Homo sapiens: one gene and its partners. The protein of the gene in region 1 purifies or fractionates together with the protein of each later gene. This does not show direct contact. Each region holds a gene or a part of one and is shown on either strand. Other genes may lie near its edges. The genes, in order: CD4, KIAA0319L, CCDC85C and ARV1.

Region 1 (7,623 bases):
CCAGAGTGGCTTTGCCATTTTAGCCTCCCACCAATATTGGAAGAATGACCCAGTTTCTCCACATCCTCATCAGCATTTGGTGGTGTTCCAATTTTGTATTTAGCCATTCTGATAGGTTTAGTGATAGCCTATTGTGGTTTTAATGTACATATCCCTAATGATTAATGATGTTGAACAACTTTTCATGTGCTTATTTGCCAACTGTATGTCCTTTTCGGCCTGTTTTCTAATTGAATTGTTCATTTTTTTGGTTTTGAGTTTTGAGAGTTGTTTATCATATTCTAGATACCAGTCCTTTGCTAAGTATGTGGATTGTGAATATATTTTCTTATATTCTGTAAACTGTCTTTTCTTATTATTCTTCTTTTTTGATATAGGGTCTCGCTCTGTTGCCCAGGCAACCAGGCAACATCTTGGCTCACTGCAACCTCTGCCTCCCTGGCTCAGTGATTCTCCCACCTCAGCCTCCTGTGTCGTTGGGAATACAGGTGCACCCAGCCTGGGTGACAGAGCAAGACTCTGTCTCAAAAATAAATAAATAAATAAAAATAAATTTTAAATATATGTGTACACACACGTGTGTGTATAGATGTATATTCACAATAAATAGATGTATATACATCTATTCACCTGTATGTGTATATATATGTGTATATACTTGTGTATGTGTGTGTGTGTGTGTGTGTGTGTGTATGTACCTTTTTTTTTTTTTGGTAGAGACGGGGTTTCCTCATGTTGCCCAGGCTGATCTCAAACTTCTGGGCTGAAGTGATCAGCCTGCCTCAGCCTCCCAACGTGCTGGGATTACAGCGGTGAGCCACTGTGCCCAGCCTCTTTTCTTCTTCTTAATAGGGATTTTGCAGAGCAAAATTATTTTGGTTTTGTTTTTGTTTTTGAGACAGGGTCTCCCTTTGTCACTTAGGCTGGAGTGCCAGCTGGAATGCAGTGACACAATCATAGCTCACTGCAGTCGTGAACACCTGGGCTCAAGCGATCTTCCCACCTCAGCCTCCCAAAGTGCTAGGATTACAGGTGTAAGCCACTACACCTGGCCAACTTGTTTATATCTACAAAAAATCTTGCTGGTATTTTTATAGGAATTGGATTAAACTTGTATATTAATTTGGGGAAAATTGATATCTTTCTTATGTTGAGTCTTCCAATCCATCAATCCATGAGTACAGCATGTCTCTCCATATATTTAGATCTTCTTTGACTTCTTTAATCAGCATCGTGTAGTTTTTAGCATACAATTCAATGCTTTCTTTTTTCTTTTTTTTTTTTTCGGGAGACAGACTCTTACTCTGTTGCCCAGGCTGGAGTGCAGTGGAACAGTCTTGGCTCACTGCAACCTCTGCCTCCCGGGTTGAAGCAATTCTCCTGCCTCAGCCTCCAAAGTAGCTGGGATCAGGCATGCGCCACAACACCTGCCTAATTTTTGCATTTTTAGTAGAGACGGGGTTTCACCATGTTGGCCAGGCTGGTCTCAAACTCCCGACTTCAAGTGATCCGCCAGCCTCAACTTCCCAAAGTGCTGGGATTACAGGCATGAGCCACTGCACCTGGCCCTACGCATGTTTTTTAGATTTACACCTAAGTATTTCTTTCTCTCTTTCTTTTTCTTTTCTTTTCTTTTCTTTTCTTTTTTTTTTTTTTTTTTTTTTGAGATAGGGTCTTGCTCTCCTACCGAGGCTGGAAAGCAGTGGTGTGATCATGGCTCACTGCAGCCTTGCCCTCCTAGGGCTCAAGCAATCCTCCCACCTCAGCCTCCCCAGTAGCTGGGACTACAGGCATACACCATAATGCTCAGCTAATTTTTTTTTTTTTTTTTTTGAGACGTAGTCTCACTGTGTCACCCAGGCTGGAGTGCAGTGGCACAATCTCAGCTCACTGCAAGCTCCGCCTCCCAGGTTCACGCCATTCTCCTGCCTCAGCTTCCCGAGTAGCTGGGTCTACAGGCGCCTGCCACCACATCCAGCTAATTTTTTGTGTTTTTAGTAGAGACAGGGTTTCACCGTGTTAGCCAGGATGGTCTCGATCTCCTGACCTCATGATCCGCCCGCCTCAGCCTCCCAAAGTGTTGGGGTTACAGGAGTGAGCCACTGCACCCGGCCATGCTCAGCTAATTTTTTACTTTTTGTAGAGACAAGGTCTCACTATGTTGCCCGGGCTGGTCTTGAACTCCTGGGCTTAAGCAATCTTCCCACCTTGGCCTCCCAAAGTGCAGGAATTACAGGTGTGAGCCACCATGCCTGGCCTTTTTGAGCAATTATAAATGGTATTGTAGTTTTAATTTCTGTGTACACATGTTCCTTGCTAATATATAGAAATACAATAGATTTTTTATGTTTATCTTATATTCTGCAACCTTGATGAATTCATTTATTAATTCTAAGAAGTTTCTTACAGATTCTTTGAGATTTTCTATGTAATCATGTCATCCACAAATAGGAACAGTTTTATTTCTTTCTTTCTGATCAGTTTTCCTTTTATTTCATTTTTCTTGCCTTATTGCACTGGCAAGGGATTGCAGTATTATGTTGAATAAGAGTAGTAAGAGCAGACATCTTTGTCTTATTCCTGCACTTAGGGAGAAAGAATTCAGTTTTTCACCATTAAATATAATGTTAGTTGTAGTAGGGTGGGTCTTTTGCATTGTGTGTGTGTGTGTGTGTGTGTGTGTGTGCTTTTTATTTTATTTATTTATTTATTTATTTATTTATTTATTTATTTATTTTGAGACAGAGTCTTGCTCTGTCGCCTAGGCTGGAGTGTAGTGGCGCGATCTCAGCTCACTGCAACCTCTGCCTCCTGGGTTCAAGTGATTCTCCTGCCTCAGCCTCCCAAGTAGCTGGGACTATAGGTGTGTGCCACCACACCTGGATGACTTTTTGTATTTTTAGTAGAGGCAGGGTTTCACTGTGTTAGCCAGGATGGTCTTGATCTCATGACCTCATGATCTGTCCACCTCGGCCTCCCAAAGTGCTGGGATTACAGGCGTGAGCCACCACTCCTGACCTTTATTTACTTATTTATATTTTATTTATTTATTTATTTATTTTTTGTGATGGAGTCTCACTCTGTCACTCAGGCTGGAGTGCAATGGCACGGTCTCAGCTCACTGCGACCTCCGCCTCCTGGGTTCACGCAATTCTCCTGCCTCAGCCTCCTGGATAGCTGGGATTACAAGTGCCCGCCACCACGCCTGGCTAATTTTTTGGTATTTTTAGTAGAGACGGGGTTTCACCGTGTTAGCCAGGATGATCTTGATCTCCTGACCTCGTGATCCGCCTGCCACAGCCTCCCAAAGTGCTGGGATTACAGGCGTGAGCCACCACGCCCGGCCCCACAAGCAATTCTTATAATAACACCTTTCCATAGATATTATTAAGTGTTCACTGGTCAGGCGTGGTGGCTCACACCTGTAATCCCAGCACTTTGGGAGGCCAAGGTGGGTAGATCACTTGAGGGTAGAAGTTCCAGACCACCCTGGTCAACATGGTGAAACCCCATCTACTAAAAATGCAAAAATTAGCCAGACATGGTGGTGCACACCTGTAATCCCAGCTGCTCAGGAGGCTGAGGCAGGAGAATCACTTGAACCCAGGAGGTGGAGGTTGCAGTTAGCCGAGATCATGCCACTGCACTCCAGCCTAGGCGTCCAAATGAGACTCTGTCTCAAAAAAACAACAAAAAAGAATATTCACAATTTTATTTCTGTCAAGTAGACTTTCCAAAATAGCTATTATTAGGTCCAAGGGTTTTAGAGTTTTGTATTCGTTAAACATTGCCAGATTACTTTAAATAGTTAGTCTAGGCCGAGTGCGGTGGCTCACACCTGTACTCCCAGCACTTTGGGAGGCCAAGCCGGGCTGATCACGAAGTCGAGAGATTGAGACCATCCTGCTAGCATGGTGGAACCCTGTCTCTAATAAAAAAATAAAAAAGTTAGCTGGGCATGGTGGCACGTGTCTGTAGTCCCAGCTACTCGGGAGGCTGAGGCAGAATTGCTTGAACCTGGGAGGCAGAGGTTGCAGCGAGCTGAGATCGCGCCATTGCACTCCAGCCTAGGTGACAGACCGAGACTCCGTCTCAAAAAAAAGAAAAAAAGTCTAATAATTGGTAGTCTCATTATGATATAACTTAAGGAAGGAGTAGGAAAAAAGGTATATACAGTATGATATCATTTACGTAATTATGTATATAATATTCTCCACGCCGAACAACAGTGGAAGAAAATAGGCCACATGCAGTGGCTCATACCTATAATCCCAGCACTTTGGGAGGCCAAAGCGGGAAGATCACTTGAGCCTAGGAATTCAAGACCAGCCTGAGCAACATGGTGAAGTCTCATCTCTACAAAAAGTAAAAAATTAGGTGAACATGGTGGCGTGCACCTGTAGTCCCAGCTACTGGGAAGGCTGAAGTGGGAAGATCACTTGAGGCTGTGATGTGTTGTGGTCATGCCACTGTACTCCAGCCTGGGCAGCAGAGTGAGACCCTGTCTCAAAAAGAAAAAAAAAAAAAAAGATTGGAAGAAAATCAATCAAAATGTTAGCAGAGGATATCTCTGAGTGATAGAAGTATGCATGCATTTGATTTTCTTCCATATTCTTTTCTTCATTGACCAAATATTTTGTAATGAGCATATAATAGTTTTAAAACCAGGAGAAAAGGCCAAGTGCAGTAGCTCATGCCTGTAATCCCAGCACTTTGGGAGGCTAAGGTGGGAGAATCACTTGAGGTCAGGAGTTCAAGACCAGCCTGGCCAATATGATGAAAACCGGTCTCTACTAAAAATACGCAAATTAGCCGGGCATGGTGGCACACGCCTGTAGTCCCAGCTACTCAGGAGGCTGAGGCAGGAGAATTGCTTGAACCTGGGAGGCAGAGCTTGCAGTGAGCCAAGATCATGCCCACTGCACTCCAGCCTGGGCAACAGATCGAGAGTTTGCCTCAAAAAAAAAAAAGTAGAAAAAAATGATTCTGGGCCGGGCACAGTGACTCACGCCTGTAATCCCAGCACTTTGGGAGGCCAAGGAGGGTAAATCACGAGGTCAGGAGATCAAGACCAGCCTGGCTAACACCGTGAAACTCTGTCTCTACTAAAAGTACAAAAAATTAGCCAGGCATGGTGGCATACGCCTGTAGTCCCAGCTACTCGGGAGGCTGAGGCAGGAGAATCACTTGAACCCGGGAGGTGGAGGTTGCAATGAGCCAAGATCACGCCACCGCACTCCAGCCTGGGCGACAGAACGAGACTCTGTCTCAAAAAAATAAATAAATAAACTAATAATAATAATAATAAATNTGCAGCTTTTTTTTTTTTTTTGAGATGAAGTCTTGCTCTGTCACCCAGGCTGGAGTGCAGTGGTGCAATCTCAGCTCACTGCAGCCTTTGCCTCCCAGGTTCAAGCGAGTCTCCTGCCTCAGCCTCCTGAGTAGCTGGAAGTACAGGACTGCACCCCCACACCTGGCTAATTTTTGTATTTTTAGTAGAGACCGGGTTTCACCATGTTGGCCAGACTGGTCTTGAACTCCTGACCNCCGGTGATCTGCCCACCTCAAACTCCCAAAGTTCTGGATTACAGGTGTGAGCCACTACAGCCGGCCTTTTTTTTTTTAATTAAAAAAATTTTTTTTGGCTAGGCATAGTGACACACACCTGTAATTCCAGCACTCTGAGAGGCCAAGGTGAGTGGATCACTTGAGCTCATGAGTTCGAGACCAGCCTGGCCAACATGGTGAAACCCTGTCTCTATAAAAAATACAAAAATTAGCCTGGCATGGTGGTGCATGCCTGTAGTCCCAGCTACTTGGGAGGCTGAGGTGGGATGATGACTTGAGCCTGGGAGGTGGAGATTGCAGTGAGCCGAGATCACACCACTGCACTGGAGCCTGGGTGATAGAACTAGACCTTGTCTCCAAAAAAAATATATATATATTTTTTTTCATAGAGACAGAGTCTCACTATGTTGTTCAGGCTGGTCTTGAACTCCTGGACTCAAGCAATCCTCCGGCCTCAGCCTCCCACAGTGCTAGGATTATACATATGAGTCACTGTGCAAAGTATTATCTACATAGGTCTGTAGCAACAATACTCAAGAAATCACGGGTTTTAAGTGATAGTGATTGTTCTAAAACTCACTAAAATAAGTTCATGAATATTAAATATTAAAATATTGAAATTCACATACCACCTTTCCCTGGGCCACCAGCAGTTGGTGTAGAGAAACTCTGGATAAGAATGCCACTGAGTTTCTGTCAACCCAAGCCCTCTGGGATCCCAGAGTTTAACTAAGACCAGATCTCAGACACCAAAGGCTTTCACTCCATAGTGTGTTTTCCTCCCTGGATGGGGAGCCAGGCAACCCTACCTTTAGTTAAGAAGGAGCCCTGATTTCCCAGAATCTTTATCTGGTTGGAGTTTTTCCAGTGGAATTGTATGCTCTTCTTCTGGGAAGCTGTACAGGTCAGTTCCACTGTATCCCCTTTTTTGCCCAGCACCACTTTCTTTCCCTGAGTGGCTGCTGGGAGGAGCGCTAAGTGGAAAAGAAAGGAGTCAGGTCTCAATGTCGCCGCTGTCCCCCTCTACCCCATCCTCCACCTTTGCCTTTCCTCCCACGTCATCTGCATTGAGACCCCAGGTCTGAGAACTTACCCAGTTGCAGCACCAGAAGCAAGTGCCTAAAAGGGACTCCCCGGTTCATTGTGGCCTTGCCGAGGGAGGCAGGGGCCTGAGCCAGTAGGGACCTGAGCCCACAGAAATGGCAGGGCCTGAGGGAAATGCCAATCATTAGTCAGCAAACATTTACTGGACCTGGAGTATACAGGGGCGATACACAACCTCTCCCTCAGGACCCTTGCAGCCAGCCTAGTGAACTTGAGGCAGGAGAATAGCAGAGGGAATTGGAGGTTGGATTAAGGAAGGAATGAGTAGGAGCAGAAGCAAGAGAAAGAGGCAGGTGAGCAAAAACAGAAGATAAATAAGTGAATAAGGAGCCCCATGGCTGGCTAGATCCAAACCAAACCAGTTAGGAGCAGCTCCTAAGAGATGGGCATATACTAGGCTGGGTGCGGTGGCTCATGCCTGTAATCCCAGTGCTTTGGGAGGCCGAGGTGGGTGGATCACTTGCGGTCAGGAGTTCGAGATCAGCCTGGCCAACATGGTGAAACCCCATCTCTACTAAAAATACAAAAATTAGCCGGGCGTGGTGGCATGCACCTGTAGTCTCAGGTGCTTAGGAAGCTGAGGCAGGAGAATCACTTGAACCAGGGAGGAGGAGGTTGCAGTGAGCCAAGATTGCACCACTGCAAAAAAAGATGCACATGTACTACAGAGAAAAGATATCCTCAAAATGACCCCGTATAGTAATTAGCTACTTAAGGTTCATGCCTACAGAGTGCATATCATGCATGTACTTAAAACTATGGGAAGGAAATGACACGTAAACACACAGAGGCCAAGAAACTAAGCAACCCACCTGTCAACCAAAAGGCACATGCTGGCTAAAGCTTAGGCAGCTTGAGGAAAAAGAGAAAAAAAACACATAGAAAAGGCCATGAAATATAGCAAAGTGATGCTGATACCATTCGCAGGTCATCCTTGATCCATAGTGGATC
Region 2 (7,623 bases), on another chromosome or scaffold:
TGGAGTGGAATTACATATATACATTATATATATATATACACATGATCCAGCAATTGTACTATTTATATGTAAATACATGTATTTATATATACAGATATCCAAGAAAATTAAAAACATATGTTCACACAAAAATGTATACATAAATGTTAAGAGCAACATTGTTCATAATAGCCAAAAAGTAGAAACAACCCAATGTCCATCAACTGATGAATGGATAAACAAAAGTGGCATATCCATAAAGCAGAATATTATTCAGCCATAAAAAGAAATGAAGTACTGATACCTGCTAGGATATGGATGAACCTTGGAAATATTATGCTAAATGAAATAAGCCAGACACAAAAGGCCACGTATTGTACGATTCCATTTATGAAATGTCCAGAATAGGCAAATCCATAGAGTCAGAAAGCAGATTTGTGGTTTCTAGTAGCTGGGGGAGGAGAGGATAGGGAGTGACTGCTAATGGGTACAGGGCTTCTTCTAGGGGTGAGAAAAAAGTTCTGGAATTAGATAGTGGTATATCTCAATTTTAAAAAACTTCTTGGCCAGGTGCAGTGGCTCACGCCTGTAATCCCAGCACTCTGGGAGGCCAAGGTGGGTAGAATGCTCAAGGCCAGGAGTTTGACACCAGACTGGCAACATGGCAAAACCCCATCTCTACTAAAAATACAAAAATTAGCCAGGTGTGGTGGTGCACCCCTGTAGTCCCAGCTACTCGGGAGGCTGGGGTAGGAGAATTGCTTGAACCCTGGAGGCTGAGGTTGCAGTGAGCTGAGATCGTACCACTGCAGTCCAGCCTGGGCAACAGAGTGTGACTCTGTCTCGAAAAAAAAAAAAAACTTCCTCTAATCTCTCTACTACAGAACATCTAAATTCTACCCATCTCTTTAGGACTACCTCTACTTGTTTGTATTGAATGAAATTACTGAGAGGTTCCTTGAAGACAGAGTCTCATCAACTTTCTCCTGGACTATTTCATTAACATGCTAATGGATACCCTAACCTCTAACCCTGACCTCCCTCCCTTTTCCATCCATCTCCATCTCCACAATTACCACTTTTCTATACTCCTGCAAAAATTATTCAGAAATTTACCAGTATTATAGTATATTTAATACAGTATTAATAGTTTTATATTTAATACTAGCATTAAAGTATTATAGTGTTTGCCTTAAGAGGTGCACAAGACAAATCCCTCGGGCATGAAAAGAAAATATTAGAACTCTTCATATTTGCTTCTGTCAATCCCTTTAACATTTTGTTTTTGGCATCTCTTACACATATATAAGACATTAGTATAAAATTACGTGTTATAATGTATAAATTTATATACAGGGGTACATTCTCAATTTTTCAATGGATTAAAGTGCATCATGAAAAAAATTTATAGACCATCTACCTAAAAAGTTTAAAATTGAAGCTTCTTAGCATAGCATACAAGATCCTTTGTGACCTAGCCACCACCTACCTCTTCTGGAGCTGCCATACCAGCTTTGCTCTTTATATTCCAGTAGTGCTAAACTGCTTGTGGAGTTTCTTCTATATACCAGGCTGTTTCACTTTTGTGCCTTTGCTCTTGCATTCCCATTGCATGGGAATACCCTTTGAATCCTTCAAATTCAACCTTCACAACTCTGTTCAGGCATCAGCTTCTCTAGAAGATGCTTCTCTAGAAAGAACTCCTTAGAGCACCCTCTTTGCCTCCAAGCTAAATGCTTCTCCTACGGTTCCAGTAGCACTCTGTGCGTTGCATCTTTTTTTTTTTTTTTTAAGAGACAGGGTCTCCCTCTGTCACCCACACTGGAGTACAGCGACATGATCACAGTTCACTGCAGTCTTGAACTCCCGGGCTCAGGTGATCCTCTCATCTCAGCCTTTCGAGTAGCTAGGACTACAGGTGCCCACCACCACCAGCTAATTTTTTTTATTTTTGTAGAGATGAGGTTTCACTATGTTGTCCAGGCTGGTCTTGAACTCCTGGCCTCGGGTGATCCTCCTGCCTCAGCCTCTCAAAGTGCTAGGATAAGCCAATGCACCTGGCCTCTACCTTTTCACTTGCTACTGGTAGTTATTCCAGAGAAAGGATTGTATTGTACTAATCTTTATTATCCTGGTGCCTAGTCTAGAAGCAGACTCCTAGTAAGTTCTCAAAAAATGGTTCTGAATTGAATAATTTATCTCTGTACTCAAAATACGTATTAACTAACTGTATAATCTCCTTCCCAGAGGTAGGGAAATGTCAGTACAAGTTTTCATAGCCAACTGTTAGCTCTGGGCCTAAGGACATTGGCTTCAGTGATTCTCCCTGTTTCAGATTTCTAGGGCCAATTAGGTCCTTGCATCCCCCACAAACATGCACACATAACTCTTCAGATGTATACATTCTTTCTTTGTATGTGTTAATATATTTGTTAAGATTTTAGTCAATCTTGTTGGTCTCAAAAGCATTGGTCTCCTTAAAGTGCCTTTCCATATCTCTGCTCTGATTTTGTTGTTTTTAAAGCTTAATTCTCAAAGAACAATTCCCTTATTGGTAATTTATTAATTTATTCAGTCAACAAATATTTTATGCATCTACTATGTGCCTTGGTACCCGCTAAGAATATCTAGCATAACTAAAAGAGGCAACATGTCTGCTCTCAAGAAGCTGACAATCTATTGTAGGAATTTCCAAAACTCCTGGGATCACTTCCTATTTGTCTCCAGATGAGAATCCCCAGGTCCAAAACACTATTTTTCAAGCCACTTAACAATAAAATTAAACAGAAAAATAGCCATTCCATGGCACACAAGGAAAACACAGACAGACCATCTTTTATCAAATTGTAATCAATGCTTTCTAACAGTAGGGCTTCAGTACTGAACCCAAAAGTGGAAATAAAAAAGCTCACCATGTCTAAGTCAACAGCTGCCTGGGGCTCTACCAAAGATGGAGCAAACTCCTAAGTGGTAAGCGGGAGTGGAGGATAACTGCAGAGCTGCCTTAATTTGGTTAGTTTTTCAGAAATAATCCATGAGCTAAATAACAGCAGGAATCAAGAATGTATTTTATCGGAAAAAAATGTAAACACTCAGGTAAACACTGAGTAAACTCATGAGTAGAGAAATACTGACTCAGGCTCCCACCAATAGGTTTTTGCTGTTATTATTTTGTTGTTGCTTTTTCAAGTAGGTTGTTTTCCCCCTTATATAAAAAGGAATACAAGTATACCAAAGAAAGGCCTGGAAAACACAGAAAAATATGAAGAGATAATAATTCCTCTAGTCAAAAAAATACATAAATATTTAGTTGTACATCTTGTTTCAGACTGTTTTCTATTACATAATTTTTTCTTCTTTTCACAAAATTGACAGCATATTGAATATGTAGTTGCATAACTTGATTTTATCATTTAATATTAGGAGCATTTTCCCGTGTACTTTTTTTTTAAATTATTAAACATTTTTTAATTCTAAAGAGACAGGGCCTCACTATGTTGCCGGCTGGTCTCAAACCCCTAGGCTCAAGCAATCCTCCCATCTTAGCCCCCGAGTAGCTGGGACTAGAGACGTGTGCCACCACACCCAGCTTTTCTTTTAAAATATGAATTTTAAGACTGGATAGTATCCCACCATGTGGAGATGCAAAGATTTCACCACTCTCCTATAATTAAGCAGGTTTCAGCAATATTTTGCAGCACAGAATAAATGACTGTTGATCAGTGCTCTCATTCACAACTATCTAAGTGTATCCTTCAGATAAATTCTTAAATGAAGAATTAAGTCGAAAAATATGAATTTTTTTAGGGCTCTTGATATTTATGCCAAGAAGTTCTCTTTTCAAACTCCTCAGCACTATATGAGGACAACCACATCACCCCTTGGCAGCACTGGATAGTTTTACTTTAATTTTCATCAATATGATAGATTTAAAAGGATATCTCATTTTAATCTGTCGTTTTGATTGGTAATGAGAACGAACATTTTAAATATATTCATTTTAACTTCTTATTTATGGCACTCTGTTTATGCCTTTTATTTATTTGTTCTTTTTTCCTTTCAGATGGAGTCTCGCTCTGTTGGCCAGGCTGGAATGCTGTGGTGCGGTCTTGATTCACTGCAACCCCCGCCTCCCGGGTTCAAGCGATTCTCCTGCCTCAGCCTCCTGAGTAGGTGGGATTACATGTGCATGCCATCACGCCCGGCTAATTTTTTGTATTTTTAGTAGAGACGGCGTTTCACTATGTTGGTCAGGGTGGTCTTGAACTCCTAACCTCAGGTGATCCACCCGCCTCGGCCTCCCAAGGTGCTGGGATTACAGGCATGAGCCACCGCGCCCAGCCCTATTTATTTTTTCTATTAGGATATTCCTTTTAAAAAAAAAATGGGAAGGAGCTCCAATTAAATCAAAGTATATAACAAATATGTCTGTCACATGTTGCTTGCATGTTCCCTCAATTTGAACATACATGGCTCTTGATCTTTTAATTTCCATGATAAAAGCTCCAAATTTTTCTAAAATAGAACTGGCATAACCTAATCCCCACCAGAACTACACCTAACACCACCACCTTTGCACTTCTATACTTAATTAGGGTGCTGTTTTTAAGCACCAAGCTCAAGGTTACTAAAGACTTGCACAATGAGCCTACAATGCTGTGTTTAACCAAGTGCTAGATTGGAAAGCACAGAAAGACTTGGAATTGCTTCTTCATCCTCTATACTTTGAATCCCTCAAATAGGAAGCTGCTTACCATGGTACTGGGTAAAAAAAAAAAAAAAATTGCCACCAGGCATGGTGGCTCACGCCTGTAATCCCAGCACTTTGGGAGGCCAAGATGGGCAGATAACGAGGTCAAGAGATGGAGACCATCCTGCCAACATGGAGAAACCTGGTCTCTACTAAAGATACAAAAATTAGCTGGGTGTGGTGGCATGCGCCTGTAGTCCCACCTATTCGGGAGGCTGACGCAGGAGAATCACTTGAACCTGGGAGACGGAGGTTGCAGTGAGCAGAGATCGCACTGCGCCACTGCACTCCAGCCTGGTGACAGAGTGAGACTCCGTTTCAAAAAAAAAACCTTTGGTCCTCCAAAACATCCCCTATGGTTGGAAGGCAGAGTACCAGAAGAGAAAGAGTATGAGCTCTACAGTGGACAAACCTGGATTTAGAATCCTACCTCCACCATGTTCTTGCTGTGTGACCTTGGCCAAGTCATTCTGCCTCTCTAGGCCTCAATTTCCTTATCTATAAAATGAGAAGAAAACTATCTATTTTTGGGTTATCATGAAGATTAAATGAGATAAGGTATGTAATGTTTACAATTAGGAGTCTGGTATGTGGTAGGTGTGCTTCAAAAAATGTGATTTACACCAGGCATGGTGGTTGGTGTCTGCAATCCCAGCTATTCAGTAGGCCAAAGTTGGAGGATCGACTGAAGCCAGGAGTTCGAGACCAACCTGGGCAAAACAGCAAGACCCCATCTCCTAAAAAAATGTACAAATTAGCCAGGCAGACGGGTGTAGTTGCTCACATCTGTAATCTCAGCACTTTGGGAGGCCGAGGCATGCAGATCACTTGAGGTCAGGAGTTTGAGACCAGTGTGGCCAACATGGCAAAACTCTACCTCTACTAAAATATAAAAAGGATAAAATATAAAAATTAGCCGGGTGTGGTGGTGTGCGCCTGTAATTCCAGCTACTCAGGAGGCTGCGGCAGGACAATCGCTTGAACCTGGGAGGCAGAGTTTGCAGTGAGCCGAGATTGTGCCACTGCACTCCAGCCTAGATGATGGAGTGACACTGTCTTAAAAAAAAAAAAAATTAGCCAGGCATACTAGCTCATGCCTGGAGGCTGAAGCAAGAGGACAGCTTGAGCCCAGGAGTTTGAGGCTGCAGGCAGCTATGATGGCACCATCGCACTCCAGCCTGGGTGACAAGACCCCATCTCTTTTTTTTAAAGAAGTGATTTTTCCCTATTCTGATGGTGCTAAATCAATTACTTATTTAATTCTAATGATCTTATATAAAATGTTGACCTGAAATAGTCAGCTGTCCCAGCAAAGCATCATCTGGGGTAAAAAAAAAAAAAAACCATGTAGATCAGCTTTCTGTCAAGTACAACTTCCACTGCTATAATTATGCAATCATCAACCATCACTGCAAGACAACAAAAACCCCAAAGCTGATGTTACTGAAATTGCTAAATACAATAATTACTAGGGTCTCAAAATCATGACCACCAATTCCTTTAGGAAAGCAACAGAAATCTTTGTAATTATAAGGGAAAAAGGCTGATTAGTTATCCCAGATGGTGGTCTCTACAGCAGAAGGTTTTTGGTCACTGGCCAGAATGGCAGCATACACAGAAATCTTTCTCATATTGCTGTTTTCTCACACTCATACTATGAAAGCACAATATCAACAAAAGAACTTGAAAGAAAGAAAGAAAGAAAGAAAGAAAGAAAGGGCATTCTCCTTTGAAATTTAGCCTTCTTGGCACTGATTCCTGGCAAGAGGCTTTACCCTGGTGAAATAATCTCTAGGAGGAAAGCATAGTCTAAAAAATCTATCAACATAGCCCCTCTCTATGGAAAAAGTAAGGAACGCATTTTTCCCATAAGTGTAGATTCCTTTAGGAAAGGAAAGGAAGCTCAAGACCAGCCTGGGCAAATAGCAAGACTAAGCACCCATGCTGAGTGCTGTGCTACATGCTTTAATTATACTATCCCTCAAATCAAACCATGAGGTAGATAATAACCCTTCCTCAAAGATAATAGGTAATTTGCTCAAGGTTTTATAGTCATTAAGTGGAAATACCCAGTTGACTTTTATCAAGTCTTAAAACGGTTGTGCCAATTCTCCCTTATGAAAAAGAATCCAATTTAAACTCTGGTTCCAAAACAAAACAAATAAATAAACCCAACAGACCTCAGTCACCAAAAGGATGACCATTTCTGTCAATTAGCAGATTGTTTTTTCTGCCTCCTAATAGTCCTTAAAATGAACTGAGGGACTCACATAAAATGCCCTTTTCTAAAAAAAAAAATCTTAAATCTATAAAGAAAATAGTACCTGTTGACAACCACAGAACGCTGAAGCAAAAGCAAGTATAAAACAGGTACAGGCTTCTCAACCACTTCGCAGATGTCTGCCAATAATATCCTGATAAAATCCAGGAAGCAGGATTTGGCTTGACTCCCAGCCTCTTCTCCATGGCCCTCCAGACAGGCAGAACCAGTACACTAGAAGGACAGAAAGAGAAGAAATTACATGCCGAGTAATTAATAATTAATTCCTGGAAATGTGGAATGCTAGAAAATATGACAGATTAGGGGAAAGAAAAATTTCAAGTTTGTCTTTAACGGCTCAACCCTGCCTATAAATTTTAAACCTGGGCTTTGAGGTAGCCTATAATTATCAGAATAACAACACAGCAAGGGATATCAAATGAATCCACTGAAAACTGAAACTTTATATTCCTTTTTTTTTTTTTAATCTAACAGTAAATCACCTATGTGGTAGAATGGAAAGAGTACCAGCCCGCAGACAAGAAGATCTCTGAGTTTTAGTTGCAGTTCTGCTACTAACAGCTTTGTGACTTTGACCAAACACACTTTCTTACTTTTGAGGAGAAGAGGTTGC
Region 3 (8,348 bases), on another chromosome or scaffold:
TGCTCAATTTAAAGTTACAAGTCCCAGAATAGAAAAGCCCAGTTTCACCAGGTGAGGTGGCTCATGGCTCTAATCACAGCTACTTGGGAGGCTGAGCTGGGAGGATCACTTAAGCCTGGGAGGTTGAGGCTGTAGTGAGCCATGAGTGTTCCATTGCACTCTAGCCTGGGTGACAGAGTGACACCCTGTCTCGAAAAAAGGGAAAAAAGAAAGAAAGAACAGCTCAGTTTCTAAGAGAAGGGCCTTTCCTGGTTTCCAAGCCTTCCATTTACATTAGTGGGACCACATCCCAAGGCCACACATGGCTTTAAGAGACAAAACTAAATAATAATAATTCCATCTGTAACCGAAATTTGTAATAATAATGCTGAATTTTCATTTCACCCCAAAGCAAGGTTTGCTGCCACAACATTTGCAGCAGTCCTGTGCTAAGTGGGCTTGGGGGAGGATGGGTTCTGTGGGAAACCCTATACTTCAACCTCCCACTGACCCCCAGTGGGGTGGAAAACTCAGTGTAGCCTAGTCCTCCACTCCTGTATTATTCACTGTCGCAGCTGACATGCTGAGCCAGACTGGGGCCGCATCTCCTTGCCCAAAACTCGACAGAGCCTTTCCTGCAAGTATGCTCTAAACACTCCAGCCCTCCAGTGTCCTGCAGAGAGGCACTCTTGCCAAGTGTCATTGATGACGCAGCTGAAAACCAGAAACATTTCACTTTCCAGCCACGAGACTGCAGCAATCTGCTCTTTGGACTGCACTTAGGGAAACCGAGGCCCAGATAACTGACCCCTCAAAAGCCCCCAGGACGGCAAAATCAAAGGGGCTGAGGTGCTCTGAACAGCCCCAGCAAATTAAACCACCTAACTTTGCGCTACTCCCACTGCCCTGAAGCAGCCTGTGGTGGGAGGTGGGGGTGGATACAGTGTTACAAAGAGAAACCTGAGTTGTAGCCATAGATTGCTAATCAGTAACAAAATATCCCTCTAAACCCAGTCCTGCCTTGAACCCACAGGCTCAGGATGGTAAATAAAGGAAAAACATGCTGCACTGCCCCTGCCCCACCTCCATGGGTATGTCTCCCACCCCAGCCCCCACCCCAACACGTCTGCAGAGGCCACTTGGCCACCAAACTAAGGAGAAAACGTCCCTCCCCAGCTCAGGCTGAGGGGTTCTGGGGAGGGCAGTTATTGCAGGCTTAGACACACTTTCTCTGAATTAGGAAAGGCTTTAAAGGGAACCAGAAAGAGCTGTTCATTCTCCACCTTCAGGCAAAAAGTTCAGGCAGTTGCAACTACCAGCAGAACTGGAAGCCAAGCTACCAAAAAACGTGGAAGAACAGGGAGGCCCCGGATCCACCAGCGAGGAGGAGAAAGCTGGCAGGGAGCAGAAGGGCTGAGCAGGGGGCTGGGAGAGGGAGCAGGCTGCAAGCTCCCACAGCCCCAAGCTGGGGCCACCCTCTGCACTGGGCGCAGCAGTAACATGGGCGTAGAAGACAGAAGCTGACAGAGGCCAAAGTTCCTCCCACCCACACCCTGGTCACGGATGACCACGGCACTTCCTGTAAGGCGATCAACAGTTTATAAATCCCTTCAGAAGGTTTATCTCCACCTCAAACCCACGAGGCAGAGGTCATCATCTCCATTTCACAGACAAAGAAACTGAGGCACACAGAGGAGAAAAGCTAGAATCCGTTCCAAATACATCTCCCTCGGGAAAGTCTTAGAGTCTCGGCTGAGAAAGGTCCCAGGACTAGAAGGGCGGAATTTATGGCAAACAAGAAAGGCTCTGAGCCCCAGGCCTCTCCCCAACTGCCTCTGGGTCTCAAGCGGCTGCCTGTGCACCTTCCCAATCCCCACACCCCACTGCAGAACTCCAGCCACCGCACACACGTGGACGCTGCTTGGTTTGGAGGACACCTGTTGCTGCAAGAGGGGAAATTCACTTGCGCTCAAGGGGCCTTGTATCCTTTGCTGTTTAGAACTTCCCGCTACTAGGCAAGGATTTCCAAGGCTGGGATGAGGCGCCCACCGCCAGCCCAGCAGTGACAGACCCTAATTTTGGCAACTACACCCGCTAGAAACTTTTCTGGGACCGGACCGGCAGCAGGTTCTGAGCTGGACAAAAAGACGCTCCACCACTGAACCGGCCCACCACCGCCCAAAGCCCCACTTTGGGTGAGTGCGGGATCCCCTGGCCCAGGATCCATGACAGCTGGAGGAGTCTGGAGTGGCGGCCGCATGAGTGGGACAGCCAGGGACCACCTCCTCTCGCCGCAGCCTGGGAAAAGGGCTGCAGCCAGGGAGACCCGCGCTGCCCGGCCCGTGTAGTCCTTACCGTGCAGGCCGTTGGGGATGCTGCGGTGGTGCGGCGGCGCCGACAAGTCGTCCAGGGACCGACGTGTGGCTCCTGCCTTGCCGTCGGGGGCCTTGTGCGGCCCGGGGGGCAGCAGCGGGGGTGGGACGTGGTGGTGGTGGTCGGGGCTGCCGCCGCTGCCCGCGCTGGACGTACTGCTGCCGTCGCCCACGTCGCGGGCCCCCGCGCCGGGCGCGCCACCCGACAGCGGCCCGCTCAGGCTGGCCTGGCTGTCGATGGAGCTGCGGGAGCCGGCGCCGCCCCCGCCGCCGCCGCCACCGCTTGCGGCCCCCGTCGCCGCCAGTGCCGCGCGCTCCTCGTCCAGCAGCAGCACCAGCTCCTTGAGCTCCAGGTTCTCGCGCAGCAGGGCCTCCTGGCGCGCCTCGAGCTCGCGCAGCTTCTGCTGCGAGCGGGCCACCTCGTGCCACACGGCGCCGGCCGCGTGGCGCCCGAAGCGCTGCCACTCGCGCGCCAGCTTGCGCCCCTTCTGCCGGTCGTCGTCGAGGAAGCAGCAGAGCTCGCGCAGCTCCTGGTTGTCGTCCTGCAGCCGCTGGTTCACGTCCTTGAGGCCGCGGATCTCCAGCAGGTGCTGCTGCAGCCGCCGGTTCACGTCGCGCATCAGGCCGCCGTGCTCCAGCATGAGGCCCACCTTCTCGCCCTCGGCGCGCCGCAGCCGCCGCGCCAGCTCCTCCTTGCTCCAGCGCAGCAGCTCCTCGTCCGGCACCTGGCTCAGCTCCTCCGACGCCGCCGCCGCCGTCGCCGCGGGCTTAGCCATGGCGGGGCCGTCACCGCGGCATCGCCCTCGCCCTCGCCCGGCCGGCGCTTCCCCGCGCCGGGGCTCCGCTGGGCCGGTCCGCGCGCGGGCGGGGGGCGGCCGGGGGCGCGTGCGGCCCGCCCCGCGCCGCCTGGCGCGTCCTCTCGCCGCGCCCGCCGGGGCCGCCCGGGAGCCCGCGCGCCTCGGGGTTGACGAGCGGAGGCGGCTGCTGCGTCGGCGGCCGCGGTGCCGGGCGCTCTCAGGGTTCTGGAGAAGCAGGCGGAGGCCCGCCCCCGGCCCAGCTCCCGGAGCCCCCGCCGCCCCGCCCACCCCGGGCGGAGAGTGGGCGGGTCTCCGAGGCCCGGCCCCGCCCCCGAGGGCGACTGGGGAGCAGAGGCGCGGCCCCCGCCGTCCCCCTGCGCGGTGCGCCCGCCCGTCCAGTGCCCTCTCAGAGGCGCGTTCCGGCCGCGGTCCCGCCCTCCCGGCCGGGCGATTGGGCCGCTCCGGGGGTGTGCGGGAGGGGCGGGGCGCGCGCGGGGGAAGCTGCGGCGGTGGTACGGTCCATCCGCGGGGTTTCCGACCCCCGCCCGCGGCCGGCTCCCGGCGGTTCAAGTTTCTGCGCCCGGAGGACGCGGCCTTAGCCAATCCCAGGGCTACAGGGCGCTTTTAAAATGCAGGTACGGCTGCGGGGAGGGGGACGGTGGGAAAGGTAGGGCCGGGCTTCCCTTAAAGGCGACGCGCGAAAATAGCAGTCGAGCCCCCTCCCCGGCCCGCGTCCCCGGTCCTCTTCCCTCTCCCCAGATAAACAAATACCCACGATCCGGGCGACGGCGCCCCTTCTCCCTCCCGGGGGCACCAGAGTTCAGGGCAGTCGGAGACACAGCGAACAATAGGACTGTGACATGGGGGTCGCTCTTCCCCGCAGCAGGGCGGCTCTTTGTCCCCTTCCCTGCCCCCAGGCTCCTCCGCCCCCGTCCCCACCCGGGTCCCCTGCCGGAGCACGCGGCGGGGCTGCGTCTCCACTCCTAGCCCAGGGCTGAGCTAAACGCTGGCGTCCGCGCCCCTGCAGGGCCAGGGCCTTGCCAGCCGCGTCCCGCAGCGCGGTCAGTACTCTCTGCCCCGATGGGGCGAGAGCTCCGGGAACCTGCCCCCTGCCCGGAGCGGCGCTCGGAGCCCCGCTCCACCTCCGCTCACTCGACCGCTAAATCCCTGGGATTCGGGAGATAATCTGCAATTCGCGGGGTGGAAACCACTGGGAAGGGTGGGAAGGTCTCCCACTGGGGCCTGAACGCCGGGGTCCGGGGGCGCCGAGCCGGCCACAGAACTCCCCACCGGCGGCCTCGCGGGACCCCCGGGCTTCCCACTGCCTGTAAGTCTGTCTCGTTATCCTCCGGTCCCCAAAGCGCATTTACGGCGCGTCTACCGCCAGCAGGCGGGGCGGGGCGGGGCGGGGGGGGGTCCCTCCCCCGGAACCTGCAACGAGATCAAATCCGCGCACGCGACAGTGAGCGGCCCACGGCCTGGAGCGCGCGCCCGCGCAGCAGCTGATGCCCCATTTACAGTTGCTAAGCCGTTCATTCAGCTGTGTACTCAGCGCCTACTCGCCGCGGGGCCTGCTCCAGCCCCGGGGGATTCTGCAGGGCACCGAACTGCCCTCTGCGGGGGACTTGGCGTCCTGGGAGCAGGATGGGGAGAAGATAGACGAGCTAGATCAGGATGAGACTTGTCTTAAGTGCTGTGCGGGGCATTAAGTCGAGCTGCTGTCATAGAAAGCATAATCAGTTGCTTTAGATCCAGCGGTCAGGGAGGTGGGGAGGCACATCTAAGCTGAAGTCTGATTGGCAAGGTACAAAGATAAGGGGAAGGGCATTCCAGGCAGCAGGAACAGCCAGTGCCAAGGCCCTAGGGCTGGCCTGTTACAGACCTGTTCCAAGAAGGCCAGTGGGGCTGGGGGTGGGCCAGGGAAGAGGCGTGAGAGCTGAGGTCAGAGGTCAGAGGGGCCAGATCATGTATGATTCCAAGACAGCTGGGGAGGCAGTGGGGTTTTAGCAGGGAAGCAACATGACCTGGTTTACCTTTTTAAGAGGCTCACCCTGGCCCACATGTTGAGAAGAGATGGAGGGGAGTACACAGAGAGGTCCAGATTCAATATCTCATCTCCCACCCGTTCGCCACTCTCTCCAGACAGATGGTCAGGGGAGGGTGGTGGGGAGAGGATGGGCTGAGCACAGCTTCCAAGGTTAAACCCCAGGGATGCTGAGGGTCTCCCAGGCCCTGCCCAAGAGAACCAGCTCCTGAGGGGAGGGGACATCCTCCCCTCTGAGGCACTGCTCTGCTGGTCCAGCACAGCTCAGTTTGGGTTTAGAGAGGGAGGGGCTTTCAGCTTCTGCCTGGGGGAGCTGCAGGTCTGTCTCAACCCCCAGGAAGCCATATTAACTTCAAGGAGCTCCTTGCAGGCTCCCTGCAGAATGAAGCCTGTGCACAGAGTTGCTCCCTGGAGATCGAAGCGTAAACGTTGGATACACCATAGGAAAAACCCACCAGCTCACCAGGGAAGTTGCTGAGACAGCACTGTGCTTTGTGAGAACCCCCTCCCCGTTCGTGCATGGCTCCTGGTGGTTCCTGGGGCCTGTTATCTCTGCCCCCTGATCCTCCAGAGCTGGCAGCTTCCGCTGAACTTCCAAGAAGAAAGTGAAGCCTCTATCTAGGTGGGGTTTGTTTGCGTCATCTACAGGCTGTGTGGACCAAGGACCAAGAGTTCCTCTGTGGAGTCTTGATAGCTTTGCTCACATCCTCAGGGTAGAACAAAGACAAGGTGCTAGTGGTGGTGGTACTGGGTGGTTTGAGGGAGGGTCTCTCTGCTCCCCACACCAGGGCTGGGAATGCTTGGGCAGAACAGGACAGGACCAGAGGAGGTGAGAGGGCCCAGGGCTGAAACAGCGTCCTGAAGGAAAAGGGACTCCCCAGGCCAGAGCCCCCTCCCGGAGGGCCCATATCGCAGGGTCCAGCAGTAGGTGCCATGCCCCCTGGAGTACTCACAGCCCAACAGAACCAGGATCCCAAAATGTCAACGTGACTTTGCCTTTTTTTTTTTTTTTTTTTTTTTTTTGGCTAAGACAGGGTCTCACTCTGTCTCCCAGGCTGGAGTGCAGTGGCATGATCTTGGCTCAGTGCAGCCTCAACCTCCGGGCTCAAGAGATCCTCCCACCTCAGCCTCCTGAGTAGCTGGGACCACAGGCACCACCATGCCTGGCTATTTTCTTTTCTTTTCTTTTTTCCCCCATAGAGACAGAGTCTCACTGTGTTTCCCAGGCTGGTCTCAAACTCCTGTGCTCAAGCAATCCAATTCTCCTGCCTCAGTGACTTTGCTTCTTAAGCCCCTTGGTCATGACAACTCTGCTTTGTTATGAAAACAGTGAAACCAAATCATGGTGCACTAACAGTCATACTGTAGGTGCCCAGGGAAAGTAGCTGTGAGTCTTTTCAAAATAAAGGTGCCCCACCAACATTCTACCCCCCTTTTTTTAAAGACTCTCCCAGGATGTGTGTGTTCATTTAGAGCCACACACATTTGTGAGAGCCAGCAGGGGCTGAGAACCGGTACGCTAACACACGGTAGATGCTAATACATGGTAGACAAAATACTCCAAAACCTAGGGCCTGTGGGGGGAGTACTGGTACAAGCTGGTGACAAGCAGAGTGTGCCCCTCACTTTCAGGGGGAATGGACTTTCTTACTCTTCTCTATGGTTGGGGCTGTGAGCTCCAACCCCAGAGGCAGTACCATTTGGTGTTTGCTGAGTGAATGTCAAACCTCTCAGTACGTGACAGATTGAGTCTGAGGCTTCATTTTGAAGGTGAGGAAAAACAGAGCCCCAGAAGGGAGATGCCTGGCCCAAGGTCACTTTCATTCATTAGCTCACTGAACATAGAGGAAATCTATGAGTATATATGCATTTATACACAAACACATTTAAATGGGAATATATATATACACATTGCAATGCATTGTGGTAAGTACTGCAAATGAGAATGGGCAGAACACATCATTGTGGGAGCATGCTCAGGCACTGGGAGTGGCTTCCTAGAGGAGGTGAATCTTGAAGGAGTTTGTCGTCTTGTGGAGTGGGGAGGAGGCTCCAGGTGGAGGAAGCAGTACAAGCAAAGGCCCAGAGGTGAGCAGGCGAGGGGTGTGGAGAGACACTATTACACCTTGCAGCTGGGGTATACAGAAGGGAACAGCAGGGTGGGGAAAGTCGGGAAGAGGTTGAGCGATGGAGCTGGGCAGAGGAGGGCTTTGTAAGCCTCAGAAGGAAGCTGGACCCTTTCCCTGGGAGCTCTGATATCTAATAATAATGGCAATGACAATGACAATAACCAACACCACCTGCCGCTTATCCTAGACTCAGTATATGCCAATGATTCTAACCTGTCCTCTTTTGAGGGTTATAATAAACCTATGAGGAGGTGTCATTAGCCCTTCGAGGATTGAACATGGGTTCTTATTGGCTGGTTGTTTGCCTCCAAGAAGCTCAGCTCATTGGGCGTGAACTTACAGGCAGTGTTCAGAGGCTTGTGGACACCCAAGGACTCTGGTATGGCCAACAAAGTGTTTGGTGGTAGCTGAATCTTCTTCAGGACAGTGAGGCAATGGTGGCTGACCAGGTCTGGGCCAGACTATGAGGTATCATCCTGAAAGGCTACCAGCAGCAAGAAGTCAGGGTCCACTGAAAAGTGGTTAAGTGTTACTAATATGGACAATGTTGACTGGGCACTTTCTAGGTACCCAGCACTGTGCTAGAGTTCCACATAGATTGTCTCACTGACTCCTCACTGATGCGGTAAGAACCCTCTGTTCCCATTTTACAGAGTAAGAAACTGAGGCTCACACAGGTTAAGTCACTTGCCCAAGGTCACATGGCTAGCAAGTGGCTGAACCAGGATTTGAACCCAGGACCATCTGAGCTCCAGAGTGTATCTGACCCCATAGACTACTGTCTCCCACACCTCAGTTTCCCTTCTCAAGAAGGAGGAATGGGGTGGATGCTCTGCGATGTCTCTTCTGCTGTGACTCTGGTTCTGTGATGCTGAGTGTCTGCAAGGTGCCTGGACCCATGTTCACCACCCACTTCCTCCTGCTTCAGGCTTTTCCATGTTGTGACCAAGCCTCAGTGGCTCTGACGCCTCTGGATGGCACCTGTGGTCAGAGCTCTCCAGCTATTTCTACTGATAGAACACTGCAT
Region 4 (7,623 bases), on another chromosome or scaffold:
GAACAATTAAAACCTAATTCTTAAAAGTCTGAAATTTTGGCTAAAATAAAAAATACTAGGCAACAAAAATTGGCTTTTTTCTATGTATTCCTCCTTCAGGTTGAACTTTCTCCATCAATATAAAGTGAGGAAGAGCTGGGCACAGTAGCTCATGCCTGTAATCCCAATACTTTGGGAGGCTGAGGTGGGAGGATCACTTGAGGTCAGGAATTCCAGACTAGCCTGGTCAACATGGCGAACCTCATCTCTACTAGAAATACAAAAATTAGCTGGGCTTGGTGATGCGTGCCTGTAATCCCAGCTACTTGGGAGGCTGAGGCAGTAGAACACTTGAACCCAGGAGGTAGAGGCTGCAGTGAGCCGAGATCACGCCACTGCACTTCAGCCTGGGTGACAGAGCAAGACTCCGTCTCAAAAATAAATAAATAAATAAAATAACAGGACCGCCAGTTAAATTTGAGTTTCACACACACCATGAATCCATTTTTATTGTATAAGTATGTTCCATGCAATATTTGGGACATTCTTATACTAAAAAATTAATTCATGGTATATATGAAATTCAAATTTAATTGACTGTCCTGTATGTTATCTGTCAACTCTACCCAAACTATTAAAGAGCTCACAATTCAATAAACTAAAAGTTTATTTTGAAAAATTCAACTTTATAAATCAGGACTTTGATTAAACTGAATGTTATTTACCTTATACATTCCTTTAATAGCAAAGTATAAAATGCAATAAATTATGTTTTAAAAAAACATTTTTCTTTTAATGTTTGCTTAACTCATTTAGGTATAATTCTCTCCCTACCTGGATATGTCTAATTGTATTCTGTTAAAAACCAGTGATGATTGTTTCAATTTACTAGCAGGTAATTCAGATCATGGCTTGTCAGTTTCCTGCCAGTGACCATATTCTTAAACACTCACTAAGCATTGTGCACCTTTCAAAATCAACATCTATTATTTCTAGAAACTTCCAGATATGTTGCAATAAAAGACCCACTCTCACATTAGAATTTCTTTTCCTCTTTTATAATATTCTTTACTTCTGTTTAAAATTCTTATTATTCTTTTAAAATGTAACAGCATCAAATAAAATTAAAAAATGAAATTATCACAACTTACATTTATTTGAGTATTGAAAAGAATATGTCTGTAGGCCTGAGCTTTGCACAATATAGCATTAATCAAGATGATAACAGGATCATACTCGATATATTTGTCTACAGGTTTCTGGCAGGATTTCTGAAATAATACAAGATAATATTAGAACAAGCAAATGTATACTTTCTGAAATCCTCAAGGATTTCAAAACAGCAGAGTCTATTTTGGACACAGATAGCAATATGGCCATATTAGCAATTATTTATATAAACTTCCATTCAGATACAAAATGTTCATCTATATAAGAAAGGGTTTCAGAAAGGACTAAATATAATCTTCTAGGCTAGGAATATTAATATTTTAACGTCATATTCAAGAAGCTAAAAATATATCTAATTTAAAGACTGAGTTTAGGCAGGAAAGTATTCCAGAAGATTTTACTTTCAATCTACAGAGACTCTATGTCCAATTCCACTTTCAATTTGTAGCAATTATTACAAAATAAATATATTTATAATGCACTTTCATTGATAAATTGTTGCCTCTTGGCTAGATGCCCCTGACTTTATGGTTCTTGGCACATGATTTGGAGAAAAGTACTCAGCAGTTACCTTGTCCCCAGAACTACTGAGAGCTGCAAGTAGGTAAAGAATGGGGCATGATCCGAATGATCCTGAGGTGGCCGGTAACAGGGGAAGCCTGGGTTTTTCTCCAGTAACATCAAGGATATGGAAAGAAAATGGTCTTTCTCTGCTAGAGTAGAGACAGACTCTACTGTCTGTACAGTCTGGAGAGTGCTGGGCTGTGCAAGGAACTAGGCTGTGCAGCCTAGCTCTAGGTTCCAGAATCAAGGCTCCCTTGGCTCTTAGCAGTTCACATTAAATGGCTTTATTCCCCCCTGAAGGGTCACCAATTTTGAGTTCAGATTCTCTAGACACATGTGATTACAATGTTACCAAATTCCAACATCACTAGAACATAAAAAACGCAGGTATACACAAACAAGCTCATTAGAAATGTGACCTCTAAAGCAGTACTATTCACAAAAATGCATCAATGCTACCATTCACTTTATAAAACTACAGCAGTCCTCCCGTAGCCACAGTTTTGCTTTCTGCAGTTTGTAACCCGAGGTCAACAGCATTCTGAAAATATGAAATGGAAAAATCCAGAAATAAGCATAAGTTTTAAATTGCATGCTGTCCTGCTCCACTGTCCGGGATGTGAATCATCCCTTTGTCTAGCGTGTCCACGTTGCAGATGCTCCCCGCCTGTTAGTCATCTAGTCGCTGTCCAGGTTAACAGGATTGAGGATTGCAGTACTGCAGTGCTTGTGGTTCAAGTCACCCTTCTTTGACTTAATAATAGCCCCAAAGCATGAGAGTAGTGATGCTGGCAATTTTACAGCCAAAGAGAAGCTGTAAAATCCTTTAAGTGAAAAGGTGAAAGTTCTCAACTAATAAGGAAAAAACCAATCTTATGCTGAGGTTAAGATCTACAGTAAGAATGAATCTTCTACCTGTGCAACTGTAAAGAAAAGAAATTGTGCTAGTTTTGCTGTGGCATTTCAAACTGCAAAAATTAAGGCCACAGTATGTGAGAAGTGCTAAGATGGAAAAGGCAGGGCCAGGTGCCATGGTTCACATCTGTGATACCAGCACTTTGGGAGTCCGAGGTGAGAGGATCGCTTGAAGCCAGAAGTTCGAGCCCATCCTGGGCAACAAAGCAAGACCCTGTCTCGGTCTCTCTCTCTCAAAAAAAAAAAAAAAAAAAAAAAAAAAAAAAAAAAAAATAGGAAAAGTATTACATTTGTGGGTGGAAGGCACGAACAGAAACGTGTTCCGATGGATGGTAATTGGGTTCCATACTATCTGTGGTTTCAGGCACTCACTGTGGGTCCTGGAACATATACCCCAAAGAGAACGGGGACTACTGGAATGGCTACAATTCAAACGCATAACATTTGGAAACTCTGAGAAGATAAAATAGAAGAGTTGCGAGTGTAAAAACCTTCTAGGCTGGCCTTTTAATTACATTAAAGTGCTGGAAGAAAAATGAAGGGCACTGAAGAATACCGACCCTGCAATTCAAATGTAATAAAACATTGGATGTGTTCCCAATTTAAATAGCTTCTCCACTTCATTTGTGTCATTACAAGAATAGGTATGTTTTCCAGTTACCGAGTGATCCAATGAAGGGAGACGTGCTGTTACCTCAAACTTAAATGTGCTTAATCAGGGCCAGGCATGGTGGCTCATGCCTGTAATCCCAGCACTTTTGGGAGTCCGAGGCAGGTGGATCACGAGGTCAGGAAATCGAGACCATCCTGGCTAACATGGTGAAACCCCATCTCTACTAAAAAAAAAATACAAAAAGATTAGGAGGGCGTGGTGGCAGGTGCCTGTAGTCCCAGCAACTACAGGATGAGGCAGGAGAATGGGGCGTGAACCCAGGAGGCGGAGCTTACAGTGAGCTGAGTTCACGCCACTGCACTCCAGCCTGGGCAACACAGCAAGATTCCGTCTCAAAAAAAAAAAAATTCTGCTTAATCAAACTGACGCATAAGGAGTTAATATTTTTGCAGTTCTTTACCTGAGCAGGGAGTAAGCCAGAATCTAAACAGAAGCCCCAGAATCAGAAATTCCATGTCCATGACAAACAGCTGTTTGATAGGTCTCCCTTGGCTACTCACATGGAACACATCTCCTTCCTTTCTACATGCAAGACTGGGACACCAGAGAGGCTGCTTCATGTTAAAATGGAAACCCTAAAAAGTCAGGGGTCCTCTCTCTGTCCTTTAAATATTCTCTAAAACCCGTTTTTGGACAGCATCACAAGTCTAAGGCTGGGGATCTGGACAATACTTGGAAGGAGGTAGGCAGAAACCAGCACCAGGAGACACAGCAGCTGTTATTCCTTTTGCATTCATTTGTTTGACAAATGTCTTTGGAGTGGCTATTACATGTATAACAATCGTTCTCTTTTCTTGGCCATTTTATGGACCAGGAACTTCCAAGGTGCTAGATATTCACCTTCAGCCACAGTTTCTATCCTCAAGGATCTAACAGTTTAGAAGCAGAAGACAAACATGCCTCTATGATATGGTCTCATGACCACAGTCATCAGACTATGTAACATCCAACGGCTACAATGGGATAAGCACAGGGTGATATGAAATCAAACAGAGGAGGCAGCTTCTGGTAGTATGTGATATGCTGTGTGCTTTGCCCATTTCCCTTCTTAGCATTCGGCATGTTTTATAAATGCTGAGAAGTCATTAAAGTTTGCTGGTTCCCTCTCAGTCAGTTTGAAACGCCTAACCTTGTTTTTACTCTAACTCGTTACTTTGAATTTTGTCCTGCTTGTCTCTTTAATCACCTAGCTTTGCTTCTCATGTAAGTAAGACTCTCTCTAGCTGGGAAGGCCGGACAAACTCCAATTGACCTCTTAATTTACAAGACACTAAGGGCTCATTACCCAACCCCCTTCCGTAAGGAGTTGGCCTGGGTAAACAGATAATCAGCATTTCAAAAAAGCCCAATTAACTGATAAGGTACTAACACCAACAATGTATGAAGTTCCCAGGATTTTTCTCAAAGAGATAACAACATAAAACCTTGAGTTCGTGTCCGGCATAGACCCTATATCTAATTATAATGAAGGATTTAGAACCTTGCACCTGGTACCGTTGCTCTTCTTGTAACCATTTGTCTTTTAAGTTGTTTATCTCTCTGTAACCATTTTGCTTCTTTTGATTCTTGCATGTTTTTACTTCTGTAGAATTATTGCATTTGAGTCCCCCTCCCCTTCCTAAACCTAGATATAAAAGTTAATCAAGCCCCTTCCGAGAGAATTTTGAGCATTAGTTGTCTCTTTGGCCGCCGGCTTAATAAAGGACTCTTAATTCGTCTCAAAGTGTGGCGTTCTCTCTAACACCCCTGGGCACAACAAGTTTACACCTCACTTTCCTTGTTCTCCCTCTATTATTTGCTTTTCCCTTAAGTGCTGCTTGCAACTTCCTTTCCCTCTGCCTTCACCTTGAATGTGAAGAGGAAAACTACACACACACACACACACACACACACACACACACACACGCACACACACACACACACACGAAACAAACAAATGTAGACATCCCAAAGCAGACCACTGGGAGTTGTATTTATTCAATTTAGTATATATGTTTCTTTTCTTTTCTTTCCTTTTTGAGACAAGGTCTCACTCTGTCGCCTAGGCCTGGAGTGCAGTGGCAGGATCTTGTCCCACTACAGCCTCTGCTTCCCTGGCTCAAGTGATCCTCCCACCTCAACCTCCTGAGTAGTTGGGGCTACAGGCGCGTGCCACCATGCCCAGCTGATTTTTGTAGTTTAGTATAGATGGGTGGGGGACAGGGGGTGGTCTCACCATGTTGCCCAGGCTGGTCTTGAACTACTGACCTCAAGTGATCTGCGATTTAGCCTCCCACAGTGCTGGGATTATAGGTGTGAATCATCACGCCTGCCCAGATTTAGCAACTATGTTTCCTATGTTTCTTATTTTGGCAAAATTGTTTCATTTACTACTTTATAGGCAAGTATCCTGAAAAGAGAAAAATCTTCCTCTAAAGAATCCCTACAACGCAAGGACCAAGCATACTCTGGGAATTCAGGCTGCTTCCATCACCTGTCTAAACATGGATATGACTTCCTCTGTCCTGCTGTGTTCTCCAATGCCTAATGAATCAGATCTCTTTTAGAATATAAATCGGCCAAACCAATTTTTTTCATAAATATTCCTGCTGTTTCCTTCCTGTCATCTCTAGGAGCATTCCCTTCCCTTCTTTAAGTCTTTAAGCTCCTCAAGGGTAGGGCTGTGTCTTATTCATCTTTGCATCTAGGATCCCAAGGGTGGGAGCCGAATGCTGTAGTGCTGAAGGAAATGGAAACTTAGGAGACTCTTATAGGAGTTTTGTTTTGTTAACATAATAATGAATTTGTTAAATATCTGTGCACTTAAAATAAGCCAAGCCCTATAGCAAATAAAAAGTACTTTTTTTTTTTTTTTTTGAGACGGAGTCTCACTCTGTCATCCAGGCTGGAGTGCAGTGGCGCAATCTCAGCTTCACTGCAACCTCTGCCTCCCGGGTTCAAGAGATTCTCCTGCCTCAGCCTCCCGAGTAGCTGGGATTACAAGAGTGCGCCACCACGCCTGGCTAATTTTTGTATTTTTAGAGAGATGGGGTTTCACCGTGTTGGTCAGGCTGGTCTTGAACTCCTGACCTCGTGCTCCGCCTGCCTTGGCCTCCCAAAGTACTGGGATTACAGGCATGAGCCACCGTGCTAGGCCGAAAGTACTGTATCTTTAAGCGTACTTATAATAAATTGTGAAGAGCTGAAGCAGCAGGATTGGTTAAAAGCAAGGGACACATGATATATTAGAGGAAAGTCAGAGAAACACAGAAAGGCAAGCTGGGAGGAATGGCAGTGAAGAAACAAGCAGAGCAAAAGGAAAGGAGATTGGGATGAAAAATACACGTGGGCGATCAGGCTGAGGATCTTGCTGACTCCAAGTTCGGCAGGGAAGAGACCAAAGTATATATGAGTAACCACTTAGAAACTCTGGAGATTATGTCACAACACATGGTCTAATGTTTAAAAACTTCTTACTTTTTGTATCTCAGAGGTTGGAGGGCCTTTAAAATAATTCATTGCTTCATGGTTTAATTTTTTAGTCTGGCATCAACAAAATGATTTTCCCTGAGTCGTGCTATTATGGCCTAAAGTTTAGTATGCATTAGCATGATAGCGACAAGGCCATTAGACACTCTGTCTCATTATGGAATGACTGTGGACAATAACGAATCCATAAAGTACTGTGCCACCATTCAATATTCCAAATATAACTCCAAAGTCCATCTCTTGGGAGAAAGAGTATCATGTTAGGGAACAAAGGGGAGGGGGTAAGTGAATGTTGACCTAAACAGCTATCCAATAATTATTTTGCCTTTCCATAAACAAAATAAACACCTGCTGTTTAGCAAAGGGATTTTGTTAGCTTAATGCCAACAAAAAGAGATTTTTTGTATTATTGAAGACTACTAACTAAAATGCATATACAAATACCAGCTTTTCTTCAGACCATATTCAGTTATGTGGTTATCATCTTCCAAACTGACCATTTAATTGGACCAGTCCAAAAGTTATTAAGTTTAGACCACATATAAGATCTTGTTCTCTTCCTCCTACCTGGATGGCCAAGCATATGCTAATCTAAAAACCTGGAAGTGATACATTTATTCAACAGACATTTACTGAGTGGCTACTAAATGTCAGTCGCTGTTCTGGGTGATACAGCTACATTAATGAATAAAACAGAGAGAATGTCTGTCCTTGTGTAGCTTACTTTCCAGTAGGAGAAGACACACAACATTAAGTCAATTATATACAAGATTACAAGAAGATAGGTGCTATAGAGAAAGATAAAGCTGGGAAGCATATCATACTTTTCAATAGGGTAGTCAGAGTAGACTCTC

Evidence for each region.
Region 2: the proteins of CD4 (region 1) and KIAA0319L purify together in Homo sapiens (affinity purification with mass spectrometry; 2 studies listed by BioGRID and IntAct, with this or other methods). This does not show direct contact.
Region 3: the proteins of CD4 (region 1) and CCDC85C purify together in Homo sapiens (affinity purification with mass spectrometry; 2 studies listed by BioGRID and IntAct, with this or other methods). This does not show direct contact.
Region 4: the proteins of CD4 (region 1) and ARV1 purify together in Homo sapiens (affinity purification with mass spectrometry; 2 studies listed by BioGRID and IntAct, with this or other methods). This does not show direct contact.

What each region holds. Positions count from the first base shown.
Region 1 is NC_000012.12:6,799,226-6,806,848, reverse strand, and holds part of CD4 (T-cell surface glycoprotein CD4 isoform 1 precursor), read right to left. Parts: intron 7,312-7,623; exon of another isoform or gene 7,226-7,311; intron 6,778-7,225; 5' UTR 6,711-6,777; coding exon 6,662-6,710; intron 6,543-6,661; coding exon 6,378-6,542; intron 1-6,377. UniProt on the Homo sapiens protein: Integral membrane glycoprotein that plays an essential role in the immune response and serves multiple functions in responses against both external and internal offenses.
Region 2 is NC_000001.11:35,547,297-35,554,919, forward strand, and holds part of KIAA0319L (dyslexia-associated protein KIAA0319-like protein), read right to left. Parts: intron 7,224-7,623; 5' UTR 7,196-7,223; coding exon 7,054-7,195; intron 1-7,053.
Region 3 is NC_000014.9:99,600,833-99,609,180, forward strand, and holds the start of CCDC85C (coiled-coil domain-containing protein 85C), read right to left. Parts: upstream 3,376-8,348; 5' UTR 3,128-3,375; coding exon 2,335-3,127; intron 1-2,334. UniProt on the Homo sapiens protein: May play a role in cell-cell adhesion and epithelium development through its interaction with proteins of the beta-catenin family. May play an important role in cortical development, especially in the maintenance of radial glia.
Region 4 is NC_000001.11:230,981,947-230,989,569, reverse strand, and holds part of ARV1 (protein ARV1), read right to left. Parts: intron 1,251-7,623; coding exon 1,131-1,250; intron 1-1,130. UniProt on the Homo sapiens protein: Plays a role as a mediator in the endoplasmic reticulum (ER) cholesterol and bile acid homeostasis. Participates in sterol transport out of the ER and distribution into plasma membranes.